3 separate regions of the Homo sapiens genome follow, and all the other regions are linked to region 2. Evidence: fine-mapped expression QTL. A gene starts in region 2. Each other region holds a variant in brackets. All regions are shown on one strand. Distances are between the middles of the regions. Region 1 overlaps CLCC1 (chloride channel CLIC like 1). Region 2 holds the start of CLCC1 (chloride channel CLIC like 1). Region 3 overlaps AKNAD1 (AKNA domain containing 1).

Evidence for each region.
Region 1: its variant is fine-mapped to the expression of CLCC1 in whole blood (TOPMed, PIP above 0.99).
Region 3: its variant is fine-mapped to the expression of CLCC1 in follicular helper T cells (Schmiedel 2018, PIP 0.91).

Annotation. Positions count from the first base shown.
Region 1 is chr1:108,936,247-108,943,257 of GRCh38, forward strand. CLCC1 (chloride channel CLIC like 1) reads right to left here. Exons shown (of 13, transcript NM_001377458.1): 8 at 5,159-5,252; 9 at 3,799-3,896; 10 at 3,390-3,536; 11 at 831-1,172. Among named protein-coding and RNA genes, the nearest start is that of CLCC1, 24 kb to the right of the region's middle. The variant C/T (reference allele first, on the strand shown) is at 3,354.
Region 2 is chr1:108,959,616-108,965,941 of GRCh38, forward strand. CLCC1 (chloride channel CLIC like 1) reads right to left here and starts at 3,869. Exons shown (of 13, transcript NM_001377458.1): 1 at 3,746-3,869; 2 at 2,694-2,854. RefSeq lists enhancers at 1,571-2,071, 2,072-2,572, 2,945-3,064 and silencers at 2,992-3,286, 3,425-3,664.
Region 3 is chr1:108,822,983-108,829,993 of GRCh38, forward strand. It overlaps AKNAD1 (AKNA domain containing 1), which reads right to left. Exons shown (of 16, transcript NM_152763.5): 11 at 4,223-4,320; 12 at 584-706; 13 at 388-495. It overlaps LOC105378891 (a long non-coding RNA gene), which reads left to right. Exons shown (of 5, transcript XR_947687.3): 2 at 668-736. Among named protein-coding and RNA genes, the nearest start is that of AKNAD1, 31 kb to the right of the region's middle. The variant C/T (reference allele first, on the strand shown) is at 3,760.

The DNA of each region.
Region 1 (7,011 bases), 23 kb before region 2:
ATCACGCCTGGCTAATTTTCTTGTATTTTCAGTAGAGATGGGGCTTTGCCACGTTGGCCAGGCTGGTCTTGAACTGCAGACCTCCAGTGATCCGCCTGCCTCGGCCTCCCAGTGCTGGGATCACAGGCGTGAGCCGCCGCGCCTGGTCCATCTTTCTAGATACATGTAGATATGTTTATTTTTATATGAAACTATGGGAAGGGATTCTATAATTTCCCAGATTCTATTATGCTCATAACTGTTTCAAAGGTTTAACAGCTGCAATTTAAACATTTCAAATGACAATACAAATTCCTCTCTCAAACAGAAATGGAAATGTCCCTTTAAAAGACTGATAATGGTGAAAAACTTCTTCTTACCATTCTACAGGTAAAAAGTATAGTCTAGCCAGCCAATGACACTGAAGATTTGGGGAAGCAATGTTTTTGATCCCTGGCCCCAGCCCACTCTTCCATCCAGCTAATCCTTTAGGGCTCTACTGTACCTTCCCTAGAGCTCCGGGCCTTCAGTGATGCCTTCTCTCTGATCTCTTCAAAGATAGAAATTTCTGTCATGCTCATACGCTGGCTTCCCATGAAGGTTCATATGAATTACCATCTGCTCTAACAAACTACTGTTAAATTGTATTTTACATAAAAGTTAAATCTAATTTTATTTCTTCTGAGGAAGCTGAACTAACTTTTGACCAGAAAGGGGAGAGAGTGAGTGGCTGTATCACTCATGATATAATTAAGGGTGAGGGGTAAAAGAGTAAAAACAATCAGACCTCTTCCAGAAGGATTTAGAACCAGTAATGAAGGGACAGCAGAATAAAAGAGTTGCTGACTTACACTGGGTACCACCGTGGGATGCTCTCGTGCCTCTGCGTCTGGTACATCAAATGCCCGGAGCACTTCAGGGCTCTTGTTGCCAGTCTGAAATCTCAAGTCAACATCTCTCTCTCTCAAAATCTCTCTTCTACCCTCATACGTTTTGGCATAAGGGCCTTGCTCAGTGGGGCCCATTTGGCCCCTATAATGGAAATCGGCATCACCTGCTCCACCATCAGGTCTATAATCAATTTCCTCCTGCCGTCTTCTATCCCGTGGCCGAAGTGCCTGGGGAGGTTCGCTCTCAGGACCGCCTATATGTCTCAGCACATGAACTGATTTTCCAGCACCATAGCAGAAACTCTGTAAGGAAAAGAAATACATTTTCCTGAGGACTCAATGGCTAACTTACAAAAGTTATGAGGCATTTTATTCAGAGTGCTAACAAAGTTATGTAATTTAACTTACTTGTGGCATTTATAGACATAAACATGTTAATTTGACTTTTTTTCATTAGAGACCTCTTTAGATTAATACAAGGCCAGAGTGGCCAATAAAACTTAATAAATCTTTCAGTAGACATTTTAATCAGCTAGACACATTTCGATTGAACTATAACAATGGCAGGCTGAAGCCTAGATATTTAAATTAGAAGGTTCTAGTCTGATAATTATTCATGTTTCTAGATTCATGCCCATCATATAAGGTAAATGCTGAAAATATTTAAAGTTGTATATCATTATGTAAACAATCTTCTGTACATTTTCTTTTTACAAATATAAACTAGGCTTAAGTTACAGCTAAAATTCAACAGGTTTTGATTCACATTCCATGGGAAAAAGTAGGCAGCAGTTCCTTACAGTGTGGCCCAGGGACCCCCGGGGGATACCTGAGACTTTCAGGAGATCTATGAGATCAAAACTTTTCATAATACAAAGACATTATTATTTGTCTTTTTCACTGTCCCCTCCTGAATATACAACGGAGCATTCCAGATGCTAGAGTGACAGCCTCACTCAGACTCAGGGGATGCATGCTTGCGTGTACAGTACTCGTATGTTTTAAATTTGTTTTAACTCCTAATATGTAAGTATCAATAAATATAATCACCTTAAGTAAGAGCTGTTTGTGGGCTTCAATTTTTAAGACTGCAAAGAGGTCCTGAGAACAGAAACTTTGAAAATTTCTGTACTAGTTTTTCAAACACTACTATTTGAAGACAAAAGCAGCAAAAGTCAAAGAGCATAACTTTCCTGAGGGAGCACATGAAACAAAAACAGATGGTGAAGACTCTGCTGATAATTTCAGTTTCAGAGACTAAACTATGACTATAGAACTAATGTCACCTAACAAAAAAATACCCGTCAACCACATAATCCTGTAATCACAAGCCAAAAAACAAAACCAAAAAAGAAACGATTTCAAAGTGAACAGAGATAGTGAATCTTGTATCCTTAGGGAAGAGAATTTCCCTTGGCACATCTGAGTTCTTTTTGTTTTATGCGACAACTGCTTTACTTGGGTAATAGCTAAAAAATCGATAACAAAAAACACTGAATAGACCATGGAGGGATGACGAGTAATATTTCTTCTTAATGTCTGCTCCTGGATCCCCAAACTCTTTCTCAGCATACCCATGTTCTTCCACATCCCTTTCTGGTTCTGTGTCAAACTCAATGCTCTACCCTTCTCACTGCTGCAAAAACTGACTAGAAATAAGAAGTCCCCCTTTCTGGGAGACAGAAATCAACTTCCTATTTCCTGTGTATTAATTTACCAAGGTTAACACATTTAAAAAGAGGTTATTATTCTAAATCACTGCTATGACATATGCAATCAAACTAGAGAACTACTTTCTTGATTATAAAAATATACAAGTAAGTATAATATGTCTGTATCATTTAGAGGGGCAGAGGGGAGGAAAAAAATCTGTATCACTTAAAAATCGCCTTCTCATTAAGCGTGACTTAGCCTGATTTACAACATCAAAGAAGCCCAATAATTTTAGCATTGCCTTTTTTTCTGTAAATCTTGCTAAATATTGACAGTGCTAATATTTAATACTAACCAGTATTACTAATATTAATACTAAGATTTAATATAAATCTTGCTAAATACTGACAGTGCATATATATATATAAATATAAATATATAATATATAAATATATATTATATATAATAAATATATAAATATAGACAGATATATAAATATAAATATATATAGATAGATATATAAATATACATATATGTATAATTTTTTTTTTTTTTTGAGACGGAATCTTGCTCTGTCGCCCAGGCTGGAGTACAGTGGTGCGATCTCGGCTCACTGCAAGCTCCGCCTCCCAGGTTCACCCCGTTCTCCTGCCTCAGCCTCCCGAGTAGCTGGGACTACAGGCGCCCGCCACCACGCCCGGCTAATTTTTTGTATTTTTTTTAGTAGAGACAGGGTTTCACTGTGTTAGCCAGGATGGTCTCGATCTCCTGACCTCGTGATCCGCCCGCCTAGGCCTCCCAAAGTGCTGGGATTACAGGCGTGAGCCACCG[C/T]GCCTGGCCCGACAGTGCTAATATATTAATACTAACCAGGATGGCTAATGCCATAATTATCAGCACTGGAAGATGAAGCAGCGCTGGAATTTCCTTCATGAGTGCTTTAATAAATTCCCCAGTTCCTTTTCCAATATGCTTCAATGGCTCCGTTACAAATGTGGTGAATGTAACTGCAAGTGCCTAAAACGAGAGAAAAGCAACTTAATTTTCTCCTCACAGGACTAAGGTACAGAATGCATCAAAATTCATTGAGTACTGATGCTGAAAGTATGTTACATAAATTAAAATGCTGTTGTGCCATTTTTAATGTGAAAATCACTGTGCAAAAGTATTTTTTCTTGGACAAACGCTTATTAGCAAAATGACTCAAACACTAAAGTTCTTTAAAATACAAGGGATTTCTGACTGACTTTAAGTAATTTTTACAAAATATATGCTATACCTTTGTTGGTGGGACCAACCAAATAGGGTTGACTAGTAAGAGCTCATAGTATTTTTGGCATGGGTCATCCTTATAGGTCCATGAACTTCTAAACCATTCTGTTTAGAGAAACAGACAAAACACTGATCATTTCTTTTAATGTTGCATTTCATTCCCAAACAAGACATTACTTTGGTTTTGACCCTCCCTGACCACCCACCAATGAGTTTTAAATTATCTTAAGTTTTAAGTAGACTCCCTGTAATGCTGATTTTTAAATTTTTCATCTTATGTCCAAAATCATGTTTTAAAAATCCATTCAAATTATACATGTTTTATGCAGATAAAAAATTGTATTTTATAAAAATGTCTAAAAGGTAAACACTTTAAAAGCAATGCTTCACAAACACAAATGAGTACAGGTAAAATGGGAAGTCGAAATAAGACTGGTGGATTGTATCAAAGTCAATATCCTGGCTCTGATATTGTACTATTAAAGCTGTGCAAGATGTCACCACTGGAGGAAAATGGGGAAAGGGTACACGGGCTCTCTCTGTAGTATTTCTTACTGTGTGAATCCACAATTACCTCAGTAAATTTTTAATTTAAAAAGTCAGTTCTTTATGGAGTTTACAAAATAAAGTGGAATATTAGTTCTAATTTTTCCAAATCAGGCTTATATACGTTGGGAAACTAGCCTGAGCTAGAGGAGGCATTTCACTGTCCACTGAAGCCAGGAAGGAAGGCTGAATTGGTTTAGTTCCCACAACTTTTTAAGAAACATTTATTTTGGATTCCATCTGCAGAATTCCGTGTCAGTCATGGACTTGCATTTATAAAATGCCTTGGAACATTATTAAACCATCCCCATTGCTAGATACATACAACCAAAGGTAGTGAACATTCATGAGAATGTTTATAAAATGTGAAAGAATAAAAAAACTAATTTTTCCCGTAGTTAAAAAAAAGTAAAGCTACAACATAAAATTTCACAAGTCAATATAAGGCCATTAAATTTAAGATGGATATTAATTCATATATACATTCATTCACTTGTTTAATAAACTTCTATTGAGAATATGCCAGACCCTGTGCAAAGAACGAGATGAACAAAAGCGAGCATAGGATCCTTCACACAGTCTTATGAAGGAAGACAGATAATATCAGAGCCAACATATATACAACTTCTATTCCTTCCCTGTGACTTTAGATGAGCATAAAAAGTCACTGGTTTTAAACCTAAAATGCTTCTTGCATGTTCTTCTGATATTAAAGATTCAGTCATGGAAAGCCTCCTGTTATTTTATCATTCTCTTTGTTCTATGTTCTTTCATTCTCAGAATTTCTATTCAAAATAAGGACAAGTGCACAAACACCTTACCCCAGATACTTCCAGTCCAGTCCATCTTTTTGGCACACACATTGTTTAATGGCTCCATCTTGGCGACTTCAGCCTGATGCTGTGCAAAAGCTAGCTGCCCAACACCAAAAGGGAACCAGGAGAGGCCGTTACCTATGAAGGTTAGGCCTACACATCCAAAAGACCTTCATTCAAAGAGTGTCTTTACCATTCATCCAAACCAGACTGTTATAAATTTTTAATTAAAAAAAAACATATTATTATTACTATTTTTTCTCTTTTTTTCCTGAGACGGAGTCTCGCCCTGTCACCCACGCTGGTGTGCGGTGGCACAATCTCGGCTCACTGCAACCACCACCTCCCGGGTTCAAGCGATTCTCCTGCCTCAGCTTCCCGAGTAGCTGGGATTAAAGGTGCCCGCTACCACGCCCAGCTAATTTTTGTATTTTTAGTAGAGACGGGGTTTCATCATGTTGGCCAGGCTGGTCTTGAACTCCTGACCTCAAGTGATCCGCCCGCCTCAGCCTCCCAAAGTGCTAGGATTATAGGAAAACATATTATTTGTAAAGAGTAGCTATTTCCAGTTCATGGAAAAGTACAGCCTTAATGCAACAAGTAAGCATAAAGTACTAACTACAATTGCCTTCTCTGTAAGTAATTATAATGAAAAAGGGAAACTTTACTAAAAATATTGTTTTTAAAAATTAGTTCAGCCAGGCGTGATAGCACGGGCCTGTAGTCCCAGATAGGAGGCTGAGGCAAGAGAATCGCTTGAACCCGGGAGGTGGAGGTTGCATTGAGCCGAGATTTCACTACTGCACTCCAGCCTGGGGGACAGAGTGAGACTGTCTCAAAAACAACAGCAACAACAACAACAATTAGTTCTAGCCATACAAATTAAATGACTACTTCTTATTTTCTTTTATAGTTGATGATATCCTATTTTGCACTGGATAATTTCCAGTACAATGACCAATATACAATCATTAAGGTGACAATACTCAAGCAACTTTCCTTCCACACAGAATCTGTGTTTAATTTGTAAATAATTAGTTCTAAATACTATAATACTTACAGCAAAAGGTTAAGGAAATGTCACAATGCTTTAACCAGATGAAATCATTGAAAATACTTGGCTACTTGACTCACTCTGCTAGAAAGATCTAAAATTTTCTTTCAATGATTATTATTTATGCTATGTTGATGGGAACAGTAGTGGTCCTTTCCAATTTCTATATACAGTATGATCCCAACTTTGAAAGATAATTAAAATCTAGAAAAATCTAGAAAGAAATACCTTAAACTACTGACAGATTTTCTCTAGGTGATAAAATTATAGGTTATTTTAAAAATTAATTTCCTTGTATCTGCCTTTTCTAAATTCTCTGCCATGAATATACCACTTATTCAAAAAATAACCTAATTTTTAAAAAATAATATTTTGGTATCATTTCTAGCAAAGACATAGAATGACATACTCTAAATTACCTACATGATAATTTTTAAATGTATCCACATAGCTTTATTCTTTTTTTTTTCTTCCTTGTTTTTGAGACAGACCTCACTCTGTGGTCCAGGCTGGAGTGCAGCAGCGCAATCTTGGCTCACTGCAACCTCTCAGGTTCAAGCAATTCTCCTGCCTCAGCCTGCTGAGTAGCTGGGACTACAGGTGCACGTCACCAGGCCCAGCTAATTTTTGTATTTTTAGTAGAGACAGGGTTTCACCATGTTGGCCAGGCTAGTCTTGACCTCCTGACCAAGTGATCTGCCCACCTCAGCCTCCCAAAATGCTGGGATTACAGGCATGAGCCACCACACCCAACCCACCTGGCTTTATTCTGACTTAGATGCCCAAATGTTAACATTAACTGGGT
Region 2 (6,326 bases):
AATAGATGTATAGGAAATAACATAGAATATATACAAGGTTCAGTACTATCTGAAGTTTCAGGCATTTACTAGGATCTTAGAATGTATACTCCAAGGGTAAAGGGGGGACTCTATACTCCCAAAGCACTTCCCCAACTCCTACTCCTGGCCAAGATGGAGTAACAGGGACCAGATTTACCCTCCTGCCTGAACAACCAAAGCTCTGCACAAAATAAATAGAACAATAGTTTCTGGCCGGTTGTGGCGACTCACGCCTGTAATCCCAGCACTTTGGGAAGCCAAGGCAGGAGGAACACTTGAGCCCAGGAGTTCGACACCAGCCTGGGCAACTTAGGGAGATTCCATCTCTACAAAACTTGAAACAAAATTTAGCTGGGTGTGGTGGCATACGTCTATATTTCCAGCTACTTGGAGAGGCTGAGGTGGGAGGATCACTTGAGCCGGGGAGGTTGAAGCTGCACTGAGCCGAGATCACGCCACTGCTCTCCAGCATGGGTGACAGAGCAAGACCCTGACTCAATTAAAAAACAAACAAACAAACAAAAAACACTAAAATCACTGTTATGCTCTGGAGATACTTAGAAATACTGAATAACTGTATACTTTATTGGAAAAAATTAAGAGTTCAACTAAGGAAGAAAGCCATGGAAGAAGCAAATACCAGAGAGGAGAGTGAAGGCTAATCAGGGCAATAGAAGACAAGCCAAAATATGCAATGGGCAAAAACTAAGGAGGGACTTAATTTCAAGAAAGTGGTATCAAGCGTATTCAATACTTCAGAGAAGTGGAGAGGAACAAAGTCTGGAAAAAAGCCATTGGATTGGTTAATTAGTTGGCCATTTATGACCTTTCAGAGAATGACAGTGAGAAGCCTAATTCTCTAAGTGGTTAAGAAGTAGGTGACAAAGGGAGTGTGTAAACTGGAGAGAGGCTCCAAGATGGGAGTGCATGAAATTAAGGTTACGGGAAGGGTTCTTCATAGGCAATGAGGTTATATACTCCATAAATAGAAATGAATGAAGATGGATGAAGACAAAATTTCTAAAGTAAAAAGAGAAACTGACAGATTTCATATTATAATATGATATGAAGTGGACAGAGAAATTAAGAGTAATTTGCATTTCTAACACTGTGAGGAGGTTAGGATGGGGGAAACGGAGATTTGGAGGGGAAAAAAGGTACTACAGGAGGCATTATACAAAGGGAAGTGAATAAAAAGCCTGTCAAGCAGTTGAGATTTTTTTTTCTTTTTTATAGAGACAGGGTCTTGCTATGTTGCCCAGGCTAGTCCCGAACTCCTGAGCTCAAAGGATCCCCCTGCCCGCCGCCTTGTCTTCCCAAAGTGCTGGGATTACAGGTGAGCCACTGTGCCAGCCAGGCAGTTGAGTTTTGACTGTGACATCCACAAAGTCGTACTATTGGCAACTATGTTACTTTCTACAGTAATAACCAGCAGTTCCATAGATTTCTCCAGGGATAGAGATTAGCAATGCAGAAATGATGGAAGACAGGAGGGTAAGACAGAATAGAAGAATCAGCTAGAAATTCAAGCCCTCCTGCCAGATCCCCATGGTCACTGATTGAAGGCTGGAACTCCTTGAGAAATCCTAAAACGAATCTCACACTTCCTCCAAACAAAGCTACATCTAAACCTGCTGAAGAGTTTGTTAAAAAAAAAAAAAAACGATTCTGATTCAGTAAATCTGAGGTAGGTCTGAGATCTCCACTTCTAACAAGCTCCTGGTGATGCCGCAGACCACACTCTTGAGTAGCAAAGTGTTAATCGAAAGTAACCATCCTAGCTAGTTTCGTTTAATGGTGGCACCTATGTCATTCTAGTACTTGTCAGGGGACACTACTCTTTCTCTCTCCCGCAGTCCCTACTATTTTTACCATTTCTCTCCTGTCTCAGGCTTCGGTACTAATAATTTTTAAATTATAATATGTATAATAGTAGCTAAAGGCCGGGCACGGTGGCTCACGCTTGTAATCCCAGCACCTTGGGAGGCCAAGGCGGGCGCATCACCTGAGGTTGGGAGCTCCAGCCCAGCCTGACCACCATGGAGAAACCCTGTCTCTACTAAAAATACAAAAGTAGCAGGGCGTGGTGGCGCATGCCTGTAATCCCAGCTACTCGGGAGGCTGGGGCAGGAGAATTGCTTGAACCCAGAGAGTGCAGGTTGCGGTGAGCCGAGATCGCGCCATTGCACTCCAGCCTGGGCAACAAGAGCAAAACTCCGTCTAAAAAAAAAAAAGTAGCTAATATTTTGTTACTATGTGCTAAGCACTGTTACATTAATTTAATCCTCACAAAACTACTGGAAGTAGTACTCTTATCTTCACTCATCTTCATTTTACAGATCACACAAAGTAACTTGCCTAAGACCACCAAGCTAGTAAGTGGTAGAACCCAGACTGGCTCTACCTAAACTGCCTCTCCAGGGCAAAAGTACTAATGGCTCTCAGGGGCTTCTCTGAGAGGATAGGGTCTTAGAGTGGAGAGGACCTGTTGGAACGACATCTCCACAGAGCGGGAAATAGGGAGAGTAGTTTATAGTAGCTACTAGACTGGAGAACTACCAGGAAACACAGATCGTCGTGCAGACGGCCAGGCAGTGAGTAGAAATGGGCACAAAAGAAAAAGTCTTTGGTTTCAACGAAAGCACATGAGTAATGGGAAAGGCAAGACTAACCTGGATTAGTAGAGTCAAATCCTGTTTTAGACTAGAAGTACCAGGGTATAAGTCGGGAGGCTGCAACTTATTTCGTATGCTTATGCAGTTTCTTGGAACCATGGCTCTCAAACTTGCGAATTTGCATTTTTAACAATTTCCCAGATGACGATAAAGCTAGTCTGGGAAGAACACTTCATAATCACTATTATAAAGAAAACCTGAATTGTTTTTCACCACCCAGTAATAAACCTACAGCTTATGGTGTGTCTAACTTTTTACACTCAAATCAGATTTGGAGCCAGGCGCAATGGCTCACGCTTGTAATCCCAGCACTTTGGGAGGCCAAGATGGGAAGATCCTTTGAGCCCAGGAGTCAGAGACAAGCCTGGACAACACAGGGAGACCCCTTCTCTACAAATAAAATTTACAAATTAGCCGGGCCTGGTGGCGCGCACCTGTGGTCCCATCTACTCAGGTGGCTGAGGCAGGAGAATCGCTGGAACCCGGAAGGCGGAGGTTGCCGTGAGCGGAGATAGCACCACCGCACTCCAGCCTGGGTGACACAGCAAGACTCCGTCTCAAAAAAAAAAAAAAAATCCATTTTGGAGGTTGTTTTGTGTCCGTTTTTGTTGTTGTTGTTAACTGTGTTAATTCACAGATTTGAAGTTTTAGAAAATTAACTACAACTAAATCCGAGCTATTCTGCTGACAGCATTTATTCAAATTATGCTTAAAGTTTTCAGAGATAACCAAAGCCAACAGAATTCAACGTGCGCTCAGGTCTCGCTTTGCCCTCGCTGTGCCTTCTCCGTAGGCCGCTCTCTGGGCCAAGCACCTCCCCGGAACGCGCGCAACCGCGGCGGACAGGCAGCCGCCGGCGCGGGAGCTGAGGTAGGAGCCCGGGGCACCCACAGGCCGCAGCGGACGCACGCAGCTAGCACGGTCCCCGCCCCGGGTCGCGCCTGCGGCCTCCCCAGCGTCTGCGCCGCGAGTCCGCTGGACCCGCCAGGGCGTAACGGCGGGTAACCCGCCCCACCCGCCGCACAACACACCCAACTGCACGGACTCACGTCCGGGATCCCCTGCCTGCCTCTCGAGGAAGACACCTGCCCAGGCCGGCCGCAGAAGAGGTCGCACAGCTTGCCGCCGCCCAGGGTTTCAGCGTGCTTCCTGGGCCTCGTCATCGAATTGTTCGGCTGACGGCTGCGTGTCCCTCCCCCGTTGCGGGCCGCTGATTGGCCTCGTTGATTGGGCGGGGCTAGTAGCGGGACCGGCCTCTGCGCGCGGGTTATTTTCGCCGCGGATTTTCTTTTACTTTTCATCTGCGGAACTCTTTCTGCGAAGGAAATCTCGCCTGGAACTCAAATATATACAACGGATAGGAAACCTATTTTCTTACTATTAATATATTTGATAAGTTTGAATGTGTAACATTCGCCATGAAACGCAAGCATGATTTTTTTTTTTTTGAGGCAGAGTCTCACAGTGTTGCCCAGGCTGGAGTGCAGTGGCGCGATCTCGGCTCGGCTCACTGCAACCTCTGCCTCCCGGGTTCAAGCAATTCTCCTCTCTCAGCCTCCCGAGCAGCTGGGACTACAAGCGCGCACCACCACATCCAGCTAATGTGTATTTTTAGCAGAGACAGGGTTTCACCATGTTGGCTAGGCTGGTCTCGAACTCCTGACCTCAGGTGATCCGCCCGCCTCGGCCTCCCAAAATGCTGGGATTACAGGTGTAAGCCACCGCGCCTAGCCACAAGCATAATTTTTTAAAGGGAGGATCACGAATGACAACTGTAGTTCTACTCAGGGCAGGACAAGGGAAAGGTCTGCACACTGTAGGGCAGTTGGAAGTAGTTTTGTTTTTGTCTTTAACTGCTGGCCTTGCAATCTCGGGAAACTGTGAAGATGGTAAAATTTACTATCTTAACCATTTTTAAAGGTACAATTCAGTGGTATTAGATACATTCACATTGTTATGCAACCATTACCACCATCCATCTCCAGCACTCATCTTGCAAAACTGAAACTCTGTACCCAGTAAGTGGTAACGCCTCATTCTTCCCCTCCCTCCTTCCCAGCGACTACCATTCTTTCTGTCTTTATGAATTTGACTACTCTAGGTATTTCATATAAGGACTCATACAGCATTTGTCTTTTTGTAACTGATTTCACTTACCATAATGTCCTCAAGGTTCATCCATGTGGTAACGTGTCAGAATTTCTTTTAAGGCTGAATAGTATTCCATTTTATGTATATACCAGTTCATTCAGTCATCTGTTAATGGATAACAGGTTGTTTCCACTTTTGGCTACTGTGAAATAATACTGTAAACATGGATATACAAATATCTGTTTTTTAACCCTTTTGGGTATACACACAGATGTTCAAATATCTGTTGCTTTCAACTCCTGAATATATATACACAAGTGGAATTGCTGGATTATGTAGTAATTCTATTTTTAATTTTTTGAGGATCTGCCGTACTTTTTTTTTTTTTGAGATGGAGTTTCACTCTTGTTGCCCAGGCTGGAGTGCAGTGGTACGATCTCGGCTCACCACAACCTCTGCCTCCCGGGTTCAAGCGATTCTCCTGCCTCAGCCTCTTGAGTAGCTGTGACTACAGGCGTTTGCCACCATGCCTGGCTAATTTTTGTATTTTTAGTAGAGATGGGGTTTCACTATGTTGACCAGGCTGGTCTCGAACTCCTGACCTCGTTATCCACCCACCTCGACCTGCCAAAGTGCTGGGATTACACGCATGAGCCACTGCGCCCGGCGGAACTGCCATTCTCTTTTCCATAGTGGCTGCAACATTTTACATTCCCTCCAAGAGTGCACAAGTTCCAATTTCCCCACATCTCCACTGACATCTTTTTATTTTTGTATAGTAGCCATCTTAATAGGTGTGAGGTATCTCACTGTGGTCTTGATTTGCCTTTCGCTAATGACCAGTGATGTTGAGCATCTTTTCTTGTGCTTATTGGTCATGCCATTTGTATATGTTTGTTGGAGAAATGTCTATTCAAGTCCTTTACCCATTTGTTTTGTTTGTTTTATTTTGTTTTGTTAAGAGACAGGGTCTCGCTTTGTCACCCAGGCTGAAGTGCAGTGTCATGATCATGGCCCACTGCAGCCTTGAACTCCTGGCTTTGCCCATTTTTTAATGGGTTTTTGTTGTGTTTTGGTTCCTTATATATTCTGGATATTAACCACCTTATCAGATAGGATTTGCAAATATCTTCTCCCACTTTTTCTTTTCTTTTTTTTTTTAGAGACAGGGTCTCCCTGTATTGCCCAGGCTGGTGTCAAACTCCTGGGTTCAAGTGATCCTCCTGCCACAGCCTTCCAAAGTGTTGGGATTACAGGCATGAGCCACCATGCCCGGCCCCATCTTCTCCCTCTTAGTGGGTTGCCTTTTCACTCTGTTGTGTCCTTTGGCTTCTTACTATAAAACGAAAATAAAATTCTAAGCCCCCCAACCAACTGAATAGGCCCATCCTCTCAGCCAAGGGCATTCTAAAGTAAACCTGAGGCCAGTTGCAGTGGCTCATGCCTGTAATCTCAGCCCTTTGGGATGCCAAGGCAGGTGAATCACTTAAGGGCAGGAGTTCAAGACCAGCCTGGCCAACATGGTGAAACCCTGTCTCT
Region 3 (7,011 bases), 140 kb before region 2:
TTCTCTACATGCTGACTCTTAGTAGGGATATATGTAAAGCATTAGCCACCTCTGAATAGTAACAATAATAGTAGTGATTATCCAGTAAGTCATTTATTTGTTCAGCAAACATTTATGGGTTGCTACCAACTTGCACTGGTGTAGCCCTTAATAACTTTCAAAGTCCTTGGTCACTGCGATTTCATATTTTCCAGCCCCAGCTCAGCCTCTTGCCATCCAGATGTAGGGCTGGATTTGGAAGTGTCAGGTGAGTGCACAAGACCTGGGCAGCAAAATGGAGAGGCCAGGGCTTCCCAGATGGAAGCAGTGGCCAGTGTCATGTGAATGTCCCATACCTGGGACATTAGGTTGTTGATATGGATGGGGTCATGCAGGAGATGTACTTACAGGGTGAAGAGTTTTTACTTTCATCTAAAGAATGGGGCTGGACAAAGGCACCTCTTTTGCTATGATTTGAGTAATTCTGTCCTGGAGTGTTGTATCTATAATGAAATTCTGGGAAGAAAAGATTAAAAATACAGTTAATTGCCTGGGAACAGTGACTGTCCCCACTCGCCTTTCTGAGGCCCCAGGTGAGTGTTACCTTTAGTTGGTTCTTTCCTGCAGGCTCTTCGGGAGGTAGGAATCTTAGTGCCACAGTCCTGACATTTGTTACTCTGCATTTCAGTGCCAGAATCAGAACAGAAGCTGTGTCCTGTATCAGAATCTGAAAAAGCCCAAGTTGCATGAATGAAGGGTAAGTGTCTTGATTATAGTCATAAAATACGGTGTGGAGAGCAGAGCTGTAACTGTGCAGGGTATGTGTTTGGCACCAAAGTGCTTAATGTCCCGGCTGTGTCACCAAGAGGAGTTGCCAGCCTGGGGTAACATTTGGGATTCCCTTCTGACAACTGAGAAATGTTTTGATAATTAACATTTCTTGTATGAAAATCTCAAGATGTAGCATACATATTTAGGCTTAGTAAAGGTCTGCTGAATGAATGGATCTGCGGCAATTTGGCCCACTGAACTATCAGACAACCTTGTATTTGTATTTGTTTTTCCATAGTTGGCCTGATACATCCACATTCTTTCTCTCAGACCCTGCTGTGGCCAAGAGCTTGTATTTTGTCATCCAGACAACTGGAAAGATGGGTTTCTTCTATGTGACATTCATAAGCCTATAAGGGAACCTGAATCATGACTTTGCTCTCTTAGCCTCAAAGAAGCTAGTAGCAGACAGCATGTGTATCTGGTGCAGGTCTAGAACCTGTCTGGCAGGCTGTGGACGGAACAGCACTCCAGGTAAGGCCAGAGTATGAAAGCCTGGGGCCAGGCGGGTGAGCATGTCAGGACTGAATGTCCAAGCAACATCTCGCTGCAGGACAGATGCTGCAGTGACAAAGCCTCTTCCAATGCTTCTTGCCTTACTGAACTCATGGTTAGACTCATTTTTAACATTAAAGTGAAGTCATCCCTGGCTGACATCTTGACTTTTAACATATTATACAATATATAGTAACTTCATTGTATAATAACAAATCCATTTCATATTAGCAAATGGAATGAGTTTGAAGGCCCAGGGTTGAAGCCTGGCTCTGCTACTTATTAGCTATGATGGTTGAAAATATGTTTACAAATTCTTTAACGTGCTATTTTTATTTTTTTTGAGCCAAGGTTTCATTCTGTTGCTCCCAGGCTGAAATGCAGTGGCTCAATCATAAGCCTCAACCTTCTGTGTTTTTTTTGTTTTGTTTTGTTTTTATGTTTAAATATTGGGTCCCTATGTTGTCCAGCCTGGTCTTGAACTCCTGGGCTCAAGCAATCCTGGTTCAGCCTCCCAAAGTGCTGGGATTACAGACATAAGCCACCACACCCAACTGACACTCTTTAAAATGTAGAGCCTAATTCCTCTCTCCTTGAGTATAGGCTGGGTTTAGTGACTCACTTCTAACAAATAAAATAAAGCGGTAGTGATGGCATATAACTTCCAAACCTAGGCCATGAAAGACACTGAAGCTTCCATCTCGGTATTTCTCTCTTGGATCACTTGCTCTGGGGGAAGCTGGCTGCCATGTCATAATGACACTCAAGCAGCCTATTGGAGAGGCCCACATGTCAGGGAACTGAGACCTCCTGCCAATGCTCATGTGAGTGAGCCATCTTGGAAGCAGATCTTCCAGCCCCAGTCAAGCCCTCAGATGACGGCATCCTTGGCTGACAACTTGACCAAACCTCATGAGAGACCCTGAGCCTGAACCACCCAGCTAAAGTGCTCCCAAATTCCTGACCCACAGAAACTCTAAGATGATAAATGTTTGTTGTTTTCAGCCTTAAGTTCTGGGATACTTTGTTACACAGCTATAGATAGCTAATACACTCACTCACACTCACTCTTTGGTCCTGTCAAGTCACTTAATTTCTCTGAGCCTCTAGTTCCTTATCTATAAAATAAAGATAATCATTCCTGCATTACAGGGATGTTGTGAGAGTTATGTGACATACACTGGCAACAGTTTTCAAACTTTTGATTCCAGAACCCTTTTACACTCTTAAAATTGAGGACCCTAAACAGCCTTTGTTTCTGTGGTTTTAATCTACCATAAAATGATAATATATACCATTTTATATACCTGAGGTGAAAATCCCCCCTCATTGGAGAACAGCTAGCATTCAACATTCAGTCCACTGCAGATGGATTGGTAGAGAAGTACTAATGTATAGATTACTAGTCATTTTTTGCTTGTGCAAATCATTTAGATTTCCCAAAACTAAATGAGCAGTTCCAAGGCGCTTTTTTTTTAGAATTTTAAACTGAGAGGTTTAAAAGATAATTTTATTTATTATGGCATTTAAAAAGTAATAAATCCATGTCATATTAACAAAATAGCAGTTTTTAATGAAAATAACTATTTCTAAAAAATTTAGTGAGAAGAGTGGCATCATTTTACGTTTTGGCAAATATCTTGAATATCTGGCTTAATAAAAGGCAACTGGATTCCATAACTGCATCTCCATCAGTTGCCTGTAATACTAGCGTTGCACAGCTATATGGCTGGTAAAGGAAGGACCTGGTGGCCCCCCCGAAAGGGTTTCAGGAAACCCCAGGGACCCTCCGATTACACCTGGAAAACTCCTACTTTGTTATACCATCTGGCATAATACGTCTTCAATCAATGAACCCTATTATTATTTGGAAATGTGTCATCTACAGAGAAGCCAGTGCAGAACCAAGTGTGACATAACAGAAGGCAGAGCTGGAGGCATGGCTCTGGGCCACAGGCAGTGCAGATGTAAGAAAGCCTGGGTAGCTCTCCAGTGCAGCTTCCTGGTGCATAAGCTGGGGAGACAAGCTGGGTAGGTAGGTTAGGCTCAGAGGTGATTTTTAAGCTCAGAAGCTGCCTGAGCAGAGGCCTCCAGCCCCACCTCTTCTCCCAGGGCAGTTCTGCTAGATGTTTCTCTCCTTAAACTATCTTTGAAAAAAAGGATCTTATGACTAAAAGCCATTGAATTGCGTGTACTGGGGCACCTCCCAGCTCCAACTTTCTTTGCTTCTATGAAATGCATATATCCAAAGCAGCAGCAATTCTCACGTAGCCAGTAACCTTACCAGGTACAGTTATGGGTCATGTGGGAAGGATGAGGATGGACAGACTGAATGACATCTTGTGATTGAGTCCATGGAGTCCTTCATTTTCAGCTAGAAACAGGTGTTCATGCTTTACTCTACTTAACCACATCTTATTGAAAGTGATTCTTTTTTTCTTTTCTTTTCTTTTT[C/T]TTTTTTTTTTTTTTTGAAACAGGGTCCTACTCTGTCGCCCAGGCTGGAGTACGGTGGCATGATCATGGCTCACTGCAGCCTCAACCTCCCGGACTCAAGCAATCTTCCCACCTTAGTCTCCCAAGTAGCTGGGACTACAGGCGTGAGCCACCACACCTGGCTAATTTTTGTATTTTTTTTGTACAGATGGAATGTCACCATGTTGGCCAGGCTGGTCTTGAACTCCTGAGCTCAAGTGATCCACCCGCCTCAGCCTCCCAAAGTGCTGGAATTACAGGCATGAGCCCCCATGCCCAGCCTATTAATTCTTTACATTTTGCAAATAAATAAATACAACATGCAACATCCTAGTGTAGGGAAATGCTCTTGGAGTGGCAGATGGCAAGCTGGTGCCTACTGCGAGCAGACCCCATGGGGAGGGACACTGAAAAATGAGCACCCAGCCCAAGCCCATCAACTTACTGGGAGTTGAATCTGAGTGTGGTGCCTTTTCATGAAGGACAATTGAAAATCTTCCACAGTTGATCCTTCCGTGGCCCTTTTTCTCCACGTTTTGCTTCCTAAAAAAAGGTGCATAAGATCCTGTAAACTTTTAGTGCATTTCCAATAGATAGGGAAAGTTTTGGTAAAGTTGAAACGTTAAATTTTGTTATATTAGAGCCTGGAACAGTGTAGGAGGGGCTTGTCATCCTCTACACAGAGCTCTCCTCTGCCTGCCTGTTTGAGAGCTTTTCTACAAGAAATTGCACCCCAGCACAATTTGGCCTGATAAGAAAATGTATACAAGACAGGCCAGGCGCGGTGGCTCACGCCTGTAATCCCAGCACTTTGGGAGGCTGAGGCGGGCGGATCACGAGGTCAGGAGATCGAGACCATCCTGGCTAACACGGTGAAACCCTGTCTCTACTAAAAGTACAAAAAATTAGCTGGGCGCCGTAGTGGGTGCCTGTAGTCCCAGCTACTCGGGAGGCTGAGGCAGGAGAATGGCGGGAACCCGGGAGGCGGAGCTTGCAGTGAGCCGAGATCGCGCCACTGCACTCCAGCCTGGGTGACAGAGCGAGACTCCTACTCAAAAAAAAAAAAAAGAAAATGTATACAAGACATGAAAAATAAATGTTTTGTTCTGCCGAGGTTAATATCTAATCATCACATACACATTCACAAAACACATTTGAAGTATGGAATTATAAAATTTGGAGTTTTCCTCATGCATCAAAATCCATTCCAGGCTGGGTATGGTGGCTCATGCCTGTAATCCCAGCACTTTGGGAGGCCAAGGAGGGTGGATGGCTTGAGACTAGGAGTTCAAGGTCAGCCAGGGCAACATGGCAAAACCTCATCTCAAAAACAAACAAACAAACAAACAAACAAACAAACAGTTCCTACCAGGGGAAGAAACTATGCTATACGTCAGTAATGGGTCACGTAGCTTTGGTCCTGGAAGTACAAGCTGATTACATCCAACAACTCCAGCAAAGTGGGCTTTGCCGGGTGTCTGTGGGACTAAAGGCTGAGGGAGCACGTGAAGGTGATTTTAGTTGCACATGGCCACCAGGTGGCGTCAGAAAGAAGCAACTGCAATGGACATTGTTCAGGAGCCTTCCTGTGGCCCACCTGCAGCTTCCTCCCTCCTCCTCAGAAATCCCAACTCCTCCAAAGGAATTCGAATTAATAACAGTTCTGAACAAAGCTCTTGCTAAGCTCCTGGGATACAGTCATAGCCCCCAGGGAAAGTTGTTCATTCTTAGTATGGAAGGCACTGTGCCCGAGATATCCTGGCATAAATGAGGCAGATTGCCCAGGGCTAGGGTTTGAGCCCAAGGCATTGCTGGGCAAACACATGCTCGCCGCGCTGTGCCCTGGCCTGCTGTTGGCGGAGAAGGGATGGGGCTGCGGGTTTGTGGGGCTGGGGCTGAGAAGCCAGGCTCTTTCCCTCCTCTTGGAAAAACATGCTGTCCTCTTGAGTCACATATTTTCTCACACCTCATTTTCTGTCTCCACCCTTCTCCTCTGGGGCATTTGAACATCTGCTCTCCAAAGTGGGAAACTTGGATCTCACTCAAGTGCATGCAGTCCAACACAGGACTTTTTCTGCTTTTAAACTCCTTTGTGTACTCAAATCTTCTGGCCAAACATAATTCCTCTGGAGAAGACAGTTTTTCAACAAGACAAAGCAGCTAAAGTACACACTTAAATCCAAAGTTTTGCATCAGAAATAACATAAAGGGATAAGCATATTTTACATTTTATACATATGTAATTTATCCACTTATATATAAACAATTTACAAATATCCTGAAAACAGTATGTACCTCAGCAAGCTTCATAAAGGACAAGTCCCATCAGAGAGAGATTTAATCTTCTAACAGAAAGAATATATAGTCCTCCCTTCAATCAATAATTCCTCAGGGATTATGTAAGTTACAAGATTTTAATTCATAAGTCATGTGTATCTTCTCATCACTCCCCAGCAGTGGATTCACTGTGAGATTTGATTTTACACTTGGTTGTGCTTGTCTTTCCAGCTTGTCTATCATAAAAAAGTATTATTTAGTCTGGAACATTGGTCCCTGTCTTGGTACTTAATGTACTTCTGTAGGGTCTAGACTAGGAATTTAGAAGAGAGAAATTTAGTACCTTGAGTGCTTAATAAAAATGGTTCTTTAATGTCAAAATACTTTCATTATACTTAGTAAAACCTTTAAAAATCCAAAATTAGACTTTAATTCAATAAATAAAAATAGTAGGCCTGGGATGACTCAGTGAGTAAGCTTCATGAGTGCCCCTTGGATTAAAGGGCAGCTCAAAGCTGATGACTGACATGGTGGTTTAATGACCCACACACAATGACACATGACCATTTTTAGCACGAGCTTCATGCAGTTTCTTTTTTCAGGGGTGGACACTCATTAGAACTCTTAAGGCAGGTGCCCATTCCCACAATGGAATGCTTTCTAACAGGAAGCCTCAGTCTTTCAGACCCTGTCATCTGCTTCTATTAGAATCCATTACGTACATATAACAGTGGTTGCTAAACACCTGCTGCCTCCCTGACTCTTGACCTTCCAAAGGTCAATGAGCCGAGCTTTGGCCGGAGTCCACAGTGAGCTTAGAGGTAACATCTCTCGCTACCTGAAAGAAGCTTCAAATAAATGATACTGAATCGACACAGATTAATAGTTGCACCAATGGGTGTTTCAAAAACAAAGGATTTCTCCTGAGGATTTTACATGATTTACAGCTTGTTAGCT